2 linked regions of the Homo sapiens genome follow. The protein of the gene in region 1 purifies or fractionates together with the protein of each later gene. This does not show direct contact. Each region holds a gene or a part of one and is shown on either strand. Other genes may lie near its edges. The genes, in order: PRH1 and EHMT1.

Region 1 (4,450 bases):
CTTTGTTCACTCTTTAAGCCATTGCACATAATGTGATTTAAAGTGTTGCTTAGATGAGAAAGAGAAACAATTATTGTTATGTGTTCATGCTTTGCTGCTGTTGGTTATGTAAGGGCTATTTTTACAAAGATGGGCACTGCAACATATCATATAATAGTGAGAATGTGAATCCAGCCTTAATATCCAGTGACAGGGATTGGTTAAATAGATTACGGAACAACCAAACAATAGAATAGTATACAATTGTAAAAACAAACTAACCAATAAACACTGAAGAGATCTAAATGAACTCATGAGAAAGTTTTCTAAACAATAAATTTTTCCAGTGAGTAAGACACAAATCTGAATATACAGTATGGTATAAGTGCTTGTAATAAAAGCATTATATATATTTATGTAGCAATATATATTTCAAAAAGTAGATTCCAAAGAGTAAAAGGTGGGGGTTTTGAGAAGGATAGAAGGGAGGAAAGATGAGTTAGGCTCTTACTATTTAGCTCTGTACATTTCGGTTCAGTGAGATTAGTTTTTGTTAGCTTAAGCATGTATGACTTTAAATGTAAGTATACTAAAAATGAGATACCATTTTACAACTGAAAGTTCAAGGACCACTTAGCAGGAATACTGGACCTGAAAGCCTGATGTGAGGCAGGACTGAGCAAAGCATGTTCAGGTGAAAACTTTAAATGGGAGTCTGAGTTTGAGGAAAGAAAATAGAGAGAGCCAAAGGGGGAACATGGTTCTATGTCCTCATTGTCAACCCTACTTAAGACATGTAATTTGAAGATAGTGATTCTCAAAATCAGAATTGCCTTCAAGAGCTTCTGTAAAACACAGGGTCACAGGGTCTTGATACTCTATACAAGAATATCTGAATAACAATTTTTAGAAATGTGTTCCAGGACAGGGCAATATTAACAGGTTTTCAGAGGATTCATTGGCACAATGAAGTTGGAGAACTGTAGCAGTTGGAGCCTTTGATGGATAATAAACTGGAATCGTACCTGTCATTGAATCCTAGATTACTGAGGAGACTGCCCCTGTGGAGGTCCTTGTGGGCGGCCCCCTTGGGGAGGTGGTCCCTGGGGCTTTCCAGGAGGAGGTGGGGGAGGACCTTGCTGATGGCCTCCCTGTTGGGGTGGTCCTTGTGGCCTTCCTCGAGGAGGACGGGGATGGCCTCCCTGTTGGGGTGGTCCTTGTGGCCTTCCTTGAGGAGGAGGGGGATGGCCTCCCTGTTGGGGTGGTCCTTGTGGCTTTCCCTGAGGAGGTGGTGGACCTTGTTGCTGCTGGCCTCCTTGTTGGGGTGGTCCTTGTGGCTTTCCCTGAGGAGGTGGTGGACCTTGTTGCTGCTGGCCTCCTTGTTGGGGTGGTCCCTGCTGAGGGCCATCATCCTGGTTCCCATCACCAGCAGAGGGTTGAGATTGCTGTCCTCCCAAAGGTGGTCCCTGACGCTCCTCATCTAGGAACTGCTCAGAGTCTCCTCCATCTGTGTGAGTTGAAACAAGAAGAGCTGAGCTCATGCTGGAAAACCCTCCTGTCTTCATACCTCTCTGTCTTCACCACACGGCCGGCCCCTCTCTGCCTGACCTGCCTCTCAACTCCCAACCTCCCCCCTTCCCAAGGCTTCCTAATTAGAACTCCTCTTAATCCACATAAGGGTGATGAAAAATTGAATTTCTTTACTCATGGTCCCCAGAATCAAGGTTGGGAGAAAACTGTTTGTATCTTTGGGGCATTGGTATTAGCCAATTCCTGACAAGAAAATGGTGATAAGAAGACACTGGAGAACTCATCAATTTTTCAGGGAAAAATGGAGACAGAGTTTACTGAGAATTTATTGGGATTTACCTGATATTACGAGGGGAACATCTTCCTGGCTGACATCTAGAAAAGAAGTACAGGATGATGGGAAAAGTTACTTCCTGAATCATTCAAGGCTCATAGTGTTCTACGAGGATAAAGGACCTCTGATCACACCCTGTGCATCCCCTTTGTGATCTCATCAGCCACTCTCTGATGCTACTGGAAGTGGAAGAAGATGTAAGGGAAAGCAGTATTGTTACTACACTGAGCGTCAACCAGGAACTCAACATAGAAGGGCCCCTGTTTGTCCTCTTTTGATTCCCCAAGCCTTGATGAGGAATGAAGATACAATAGGTCTTCTGATCCTCGGCATGAAAATTCTGCAGTCCCATCTGTTTTCTCATCCTCCTCTCTTCCCTCCACTTTCCTCCTCTATAGCATTTGCCTGTAAACCCTTAGCGCTTATTTAGTTAAACTGCTCTGAGTATTTCAATGACATATTTGGGGATTCTTCTGCCCTCTTTCATCTGTAAATATGTTGTTTATGTTTGCAAGCCTTCTCAACAGGAGCCACCAGACATAGCCACTTGGATATAATCTTACGCATGCCATTCCCAGCACATTGAAATACTACATTCAGGAGACAGAAAAATGACAATGTTTCACTCTGGTTATTCTCTAACTCTATGTAGACAGAGACAAGTGTTTACCCAATTCTCTGCCTCGGCAGTAGCTCTGACATGTGTTTATCTCCTTCATTAATGCTCATCCACTGTACAGCAAGGCCACCATCATCCCTGTCTACTGGGATCAGTACAGGATCTTCACAGCTGTACTTCCCTGAATCTGTCTTGCATTCTCCACATCCTTCACAGCAGTCCCATGTCTCTATATAATGCAAATCTCACTCTCTCACACCCCTAGTACGAATTCTTTATTGGATTCTATTTGTGCAACAAATAAACTATGAGGCCTTGATGAGGAATGGAGGTACAATAGATCTTCTGATCCTCAGCATGAGAACTCTGCAGTCCCATCTGTTTTCTCATCCTCCTCTCTTCCCTCCACTTTCCTCCTCTATAGCATTTGCCTGTAAACCCCAATCAGAGTCACAATATCTTCCCCCAATTCATCTTACCTTCATTTAAATCCTGAGCTGAGCTGAAGGCCAGCAGGGCCACTGACAGCAGAATCAGAAGCATCTTGCAGGAGGCTCTGGTGTCACTCCCAACTTTGTGCTGGGAGAAACGTGTCAGCTCCCTTTATAAAGACAAGCAGGACAATGGTGCATTTGAGCTCCCTACCAGGTGGGCCTCCTCGCCTCAGAGACTGGCTTCTGCTTTGCTTACTTCAGGTCAAGTGTATCCCTCATTTCTTTTGGGACTCTAGCTCAGCAGGAAGGGTTGGGTAGGATATTGTTTGTGTCTAATTCCTAAAAGGCACAACTATGACTTGGACAAATGTTTTGACGGAACTGTGTCCAAGCAGTCGGCACAGTGTCAGGATTGAACTTTAGACATCTTTTGGTTTTCAATCTGTTTGGAAAGACTGCTATTCTGCTTTTCACTGTGCTTTTCATTTCTGTGTATGTGAGTTTGTGTGGGTGTGTCGGGGGGTGGACACTGATCCTACAGCTAACAGTGAAGATGGTCAATATCTCTGACTGTTTTGATAGCCTCTTTCCATCTCTCATGATGTGTGTGCGTGGATATTTTCACATTTAGCTAAATTTTTCATGTAACAGAGATGGTCTTGCTTATCTGTGAGATGTGTGAGGACAGCACACTCCCAGGCACACATATATGAGAGAAAGGTGCTGGCAGCCTGCTCAGGCTACAAGAATTGTCCAAACTTCTGTGAATCTCACTACACTCAGGCAAGCCTTGGTGCTATACAACACAGGCAAGCTAAAATATTTGTATTTTAAAAATATCTTTAGGGTTTATTAAAGCAAAACTGAACTCAGAAACCACCAAGGAATTTCTAGACCTGAACAAACTGAATATATGGTTCCCTAAGTGAGCCACACGATGTCATATAGCTAAGACCTCCACTTTCTCCAGAATATTCCATAGAATTCATCCTCTACTTTATTTCTTCTAATAAATATTGTAATTGTCATCACTGATAATTAAATGGCCACAATTATACATTCATCTAAGATAATTTGTAATACCTGTCCAAGCCTCAATTGCCTTGATTGGTCTTCTGCTTTTACTCAGTAATTATGTCACCTGTTTCATCAGAGTGTTCTTTCTCACCAAGGATTTTTATCTGTAATATTCCAATACTCATTCTTTCTCATTCTTTTTCTCGCACTTATTTGTTGAAATTTTGTATTCTGAGTCTACCTTGCCATGTTTACTTTTCGTCCTATATCTTTTTTTTTCTCCCTACAAAGGTGTCCTTTATTTATCCTTCTAAGTAAAGGTGTGTGGTACTCCTCACTACCTTTACTTTCATTTTTGTCTGTATAATTTGACAATAAAAAATTAAGTTTCCAAAAAGCCCTGTCAGGGTCCTGGTTTGGTAGCTCTCTCCTCAGCTGCTGATTGCTCCAAAAATTAAGTTTCCAAAAAGCCCTGTCAGAGTCCTGGTTTTGTCGCTCTCTCCTCAGCTGCTGATTGCTCTGTGATACCTAGAAATT
Region 2 (3,500 bases), on another chromosome or scaffold:
CAAGGTGAGGGCGGCCTCGTGTGCGTGGGCTCAGGTGGTAAGTGCCGCTGGTCCGGGTCTGCAAAAACAGTGCAGGCGTCTGTGACCCCAGCGCTGTCGTGGCAGCGTCGGGAAGGAGTTGGAGGTGAGCTGGGTGTGACAGGCAGGGGAGGCACAGCGGGCACCAGCACCCGAGTCAGGGTCGTGAGCCGAGGACATGGCTGCGGATTCCCTGGGGCTGGGGTCTGCATCCTTTGTGGCTGCCTGGATGGTGGCGGGGGTGGGCAGCGTCAGCCTGGCTTGGCCCCAGGAGGAGGTGCTGCTTATGTTGTGTGTATCTGGTAAGCTGTGCCTTGTGCTTGCTGAGTGTGAGGGGTGTGAAGAGGGAGGGTGCTGCCGGGCTGGGTACAGGGAGCATCAGTGTGGGCGCTGGGCTTGAGGAGACACAGGATTGGAAGTTTCTGTTGGGTGCTGGTCCTCGGAGGAGCCCAGGTTGGAGGCTGCTGAGGAGGAGACGGGAGTGGGGAGTAGCCCTGGCTAGCAGGGGTGCAATTCAGGGGAGGGATGTCTAAGCAGAGGCGGAGAGTTCCTGGTCTCCCGAGTTCAGAGGTCACGGTGGGGGCGGAAGCCAGCATGGCCTGGGTAAAGAGACGCGAGCAGGGAGAGGCAACAGGCGTCCCCTCTGGAAGCAGACTTTGGAGGAGAGTGGACATGGAGGGTCAAGTGTTTACCCATCTGAATTAGAGGCTCCAATGGGAAAAGGATTCGTGCCAGTGAGGGCTATGGAGATGGTACGCTCAGAAAGCCACCAAGCTCATGTCCGAGTGGTGTCTTTTCAGGTGGACAGTGTTGCTGAGGGGGCGCAGGAAGGAATGTTCTGAGGAGCGCCCTAATTGTTCAGAGCAGCCCCTGAAGCCGTCAAGCCAGAGTGTGCCTGGGCAGCCCTGGGCCCCGCGCCTCAGCTCACACAGCCCTGGGGGAGCATCTGCACCCAGTGCTGCTGTACCTGGCCTGGCTTCAGGGGGGTAGAAAGGGGAGCAGAGGGCTGGGTCCCTCCACAGTTGAGGATTTGCAAGGCAAGGAGGCCAGGAGTGCAGGAGGGTGCAGGAGGCCCCAACCAGCTGAAGAAAGCAGAGCAACCCAGGAGCTGGCAGCCTCGGTGAGGCTGGAGAAGCCCAGGCTGGGGGCTGGGAAGGCCCTGGGTGGACAGAAGCTGGCCCCAGGCTGGGCCTAGGGGAGCGCTCCAGGGGGTCTCCACAACCTGTGTGGGCATCTGGGTGGAGGCTTCTCATCCAAACCGTACACATGGAGTTTTTCCCTAGGTGGGTGTTCAAGTTTGGCCAGAAACCATCGTTTTTATGTCCGTTTAAGCCACACTGGGCACTTAGTAGAAATGGGTTGATGTCAGTTCAATTAAAGAGTGAGTAACCTCTGCTGGGCCCTTGCTGCTCATCTGTCCACAGGATGGCCGGCTCCTGCCAGAGTTCAACATGGCGGAGCCTCCCTTGATCTTCGAATGCAACCACGCGTGCTCCTGCTGGAGGAACTGCCGAAATCGCGTCGTACAGAATGGTCTCAGGTGAGAGGCAGCTTCCTGCCGGAGCCCCACATTCTGCTCGTATTAGCACGTATTAGCACGGAGGTCACCCCGACAGACAAGAACTTAACGTGTTTGGATGCACGCACATGTGTGTTTGCAGATAGAGCCGACAAGTTACCTGAGCCCTTTATCCTCTAGAAATGTCACTTGTGCCATAAATCACGAGTCATGCTTCCCCCAGCACAGACTTCGGCATGAGAGAAGGAGCAGGTTGTTGGGTCAGTCCAGCTAAAAGCAGAGGAACGGACTTGGCCTAAGAATTACCTTTGTTACCGAGTTCATGCGAACATTCTTCAACAGGTTAGGGCTGTCGTAGTTCTATTTTAATACTCCAGTCATTTTCTAAATATTCTCTGTTCTCTGGGCTTCCCTAACAGTGAGGTGATGTCCCAACGCTTCTCAGGCTGCGTGGACTCCTTGTTCCTGGGTTGCTCAGGACGCTCATGGAGTAAGGCTTGCCCAGCGCCCTTCCCCAGCTGGGCTTGGTCCCCTGACCGCCCAGCAGCTGCGTCTCCTTTCCCTGGATTCTGGTCTTGAGCATTTCCTCCGCAAATGTGCCCGAGATTGGAGAAGTCAAAGCTCCTCTGAGTCATAAGGGAAAGTTATGCACACTTAAATTTAGCTGAACACTCATTTTTATAGTATTGACTTTTTTGTGACCTCGATAAACTTGGTTCATGGTGAAAGGCAGTCTCTGTCCTTGGTATGGTAGAAAGGCCTGGTGGTGAGGACCCACGCCAGACAGACGCGAGGCAGACACGGGACACATGCCAGATGGGCAGACGCGAGGCACGTGGTTCTGAGGGCTCCTCAGAGGCCCACATGCCAGGACCGCCCAGCCGCCCTCCTCCAGATCTACCCGGCCACCCTCCCCCAGGCCTGCCCAACCACCTTCCCCCAGCCCTGAGAAACCCTCGACCGCCACCTCCCCTGCCACCCTCCCCCAGCCCTGAGGGGCCTGTGGGCTCCTTGTCGGGAGCAGGCTGGGCTGCAGGTGTCACCACAGCCTGGTCCAGCTATAGGCTTCTCTAGTATTAGCACCTCTGCCCCTCACAGTGCCTAGTGGCCCAGGCCCAGCTCTGTCCCCATGTTACAGATGGGGACACCGAGCCACGGCCAGGACCAGTGACTTGCCGAGGTTGTGGGCTGGGGTGCTCCTGGCTGATCCCCGGGTTCTTGGCTCCCTGAGAGTGCGAGATGCCGTGTCTGTGAGGTGCCTGCAGCATCGAACGCTTCGGATACAGAACCAGTTTTCTTCCTCATTTCAGTGACGTGGCACCAGCTGGCTTTTGCTGACCATTGTGGCAACAGGCTGAGGCTGTGGCCTGGGTTCACCACTACTCTCTATTTTTCAGGGCAAGGCTGCAGCTCTACCGGACGCGGGACATGGGCTGGGGCGTGCGGTCCCTGCAGGACATCCCACCAGGCACCTTTGTCTGCGAGTGAGTGAGTCCCTGGGTCACCCCAAGCCTGGTGTCATTTCTGGGACGGAGGCCCATCTGTGTCTGTACTTCAGGAAGCCCCTCTGGGAGCAGGCACATCCCTGGCGTACAGCAGCGTGGGGTGGGGGCCACAGAGACCCTGGCCCCGAGAACCAAGCTCGTGCTGTCCTCAGTCCTCTTGCTGCTGCCCGTAACCAGCCCAGGAGTGCATTTAAGAAGGCGTGGTCCAGTTAGGAAGGCGTGGTCCAGTTAGGAAGGCGTGGTCCAGCATGGGCAGTCATCTCTAGGGGAGGACCATTCTGGGTTCTCAGGTACCAGACCGCAGACGCAGAGCTTTCGGTATCGTTATCATCATCCTCCGGACCCTCAGCTGAAACCCCAGTTCAACCCTGGGCACACCTCTCTAAACATGTTCCCTGCATGTTCTTCTGGTGTGCCCTGCTCTTTCCCTGTGGCTGCGGAGTCTGGGCTGTGCTTGT

What was found.
Region 2: the proteins of PRH1 (region 1) and EHMT1 purify together in Homo sapiens (affinity purification with mass spectrometry, with the first as the bait; one large-scale study listed by BioGRID). This does not show direct contact.

Annotation. Positions count from the first base shown.
Region 1 is NC_000012.12:10,881,213-10,885,662, forward strand, and holds the start of PRH1 (salivary acidic proline-rich phosphoprotein 1/2 isoform a preproprotein), read right to left. Parts: upstream 3,044-4,450; 5' UTR 3,006-3,043; coding exon 2,942-3,005; intron 1,885-2,941; coding exon 1,849-1,884; intron 1,487-1,848; coding exon 1,023-1,486; 3' UTR 1,005-1,022; intron 1-1,004. UniProt on the Homo sapiens protein: PRP's act as highly potent inhibitors of crystal growth of calcium phosphates. They provide a protective and reparative environment for dental enamel which is important for the integrity of the teeth.
Region 2 is NC_000009.12:137,814,505-137,818,004, forward strand, and holds part of EHMT1 (histone-lysine N-methyltransferase EHMT1), read left to right. Parts: coding exon 1-4; intron 5-1,442; coding exon 1,443-1,558; intron 1,559-2,934; coding exon 2,935-3,021; intron 3,022-3,500. UniProt on the Homo sapiens protein: Histone methyltransferase that specifically mono- and dimethylates 'Lys-9' of histone H3 (H3K9me1 and H3K9me2, respectively) in euchromatin.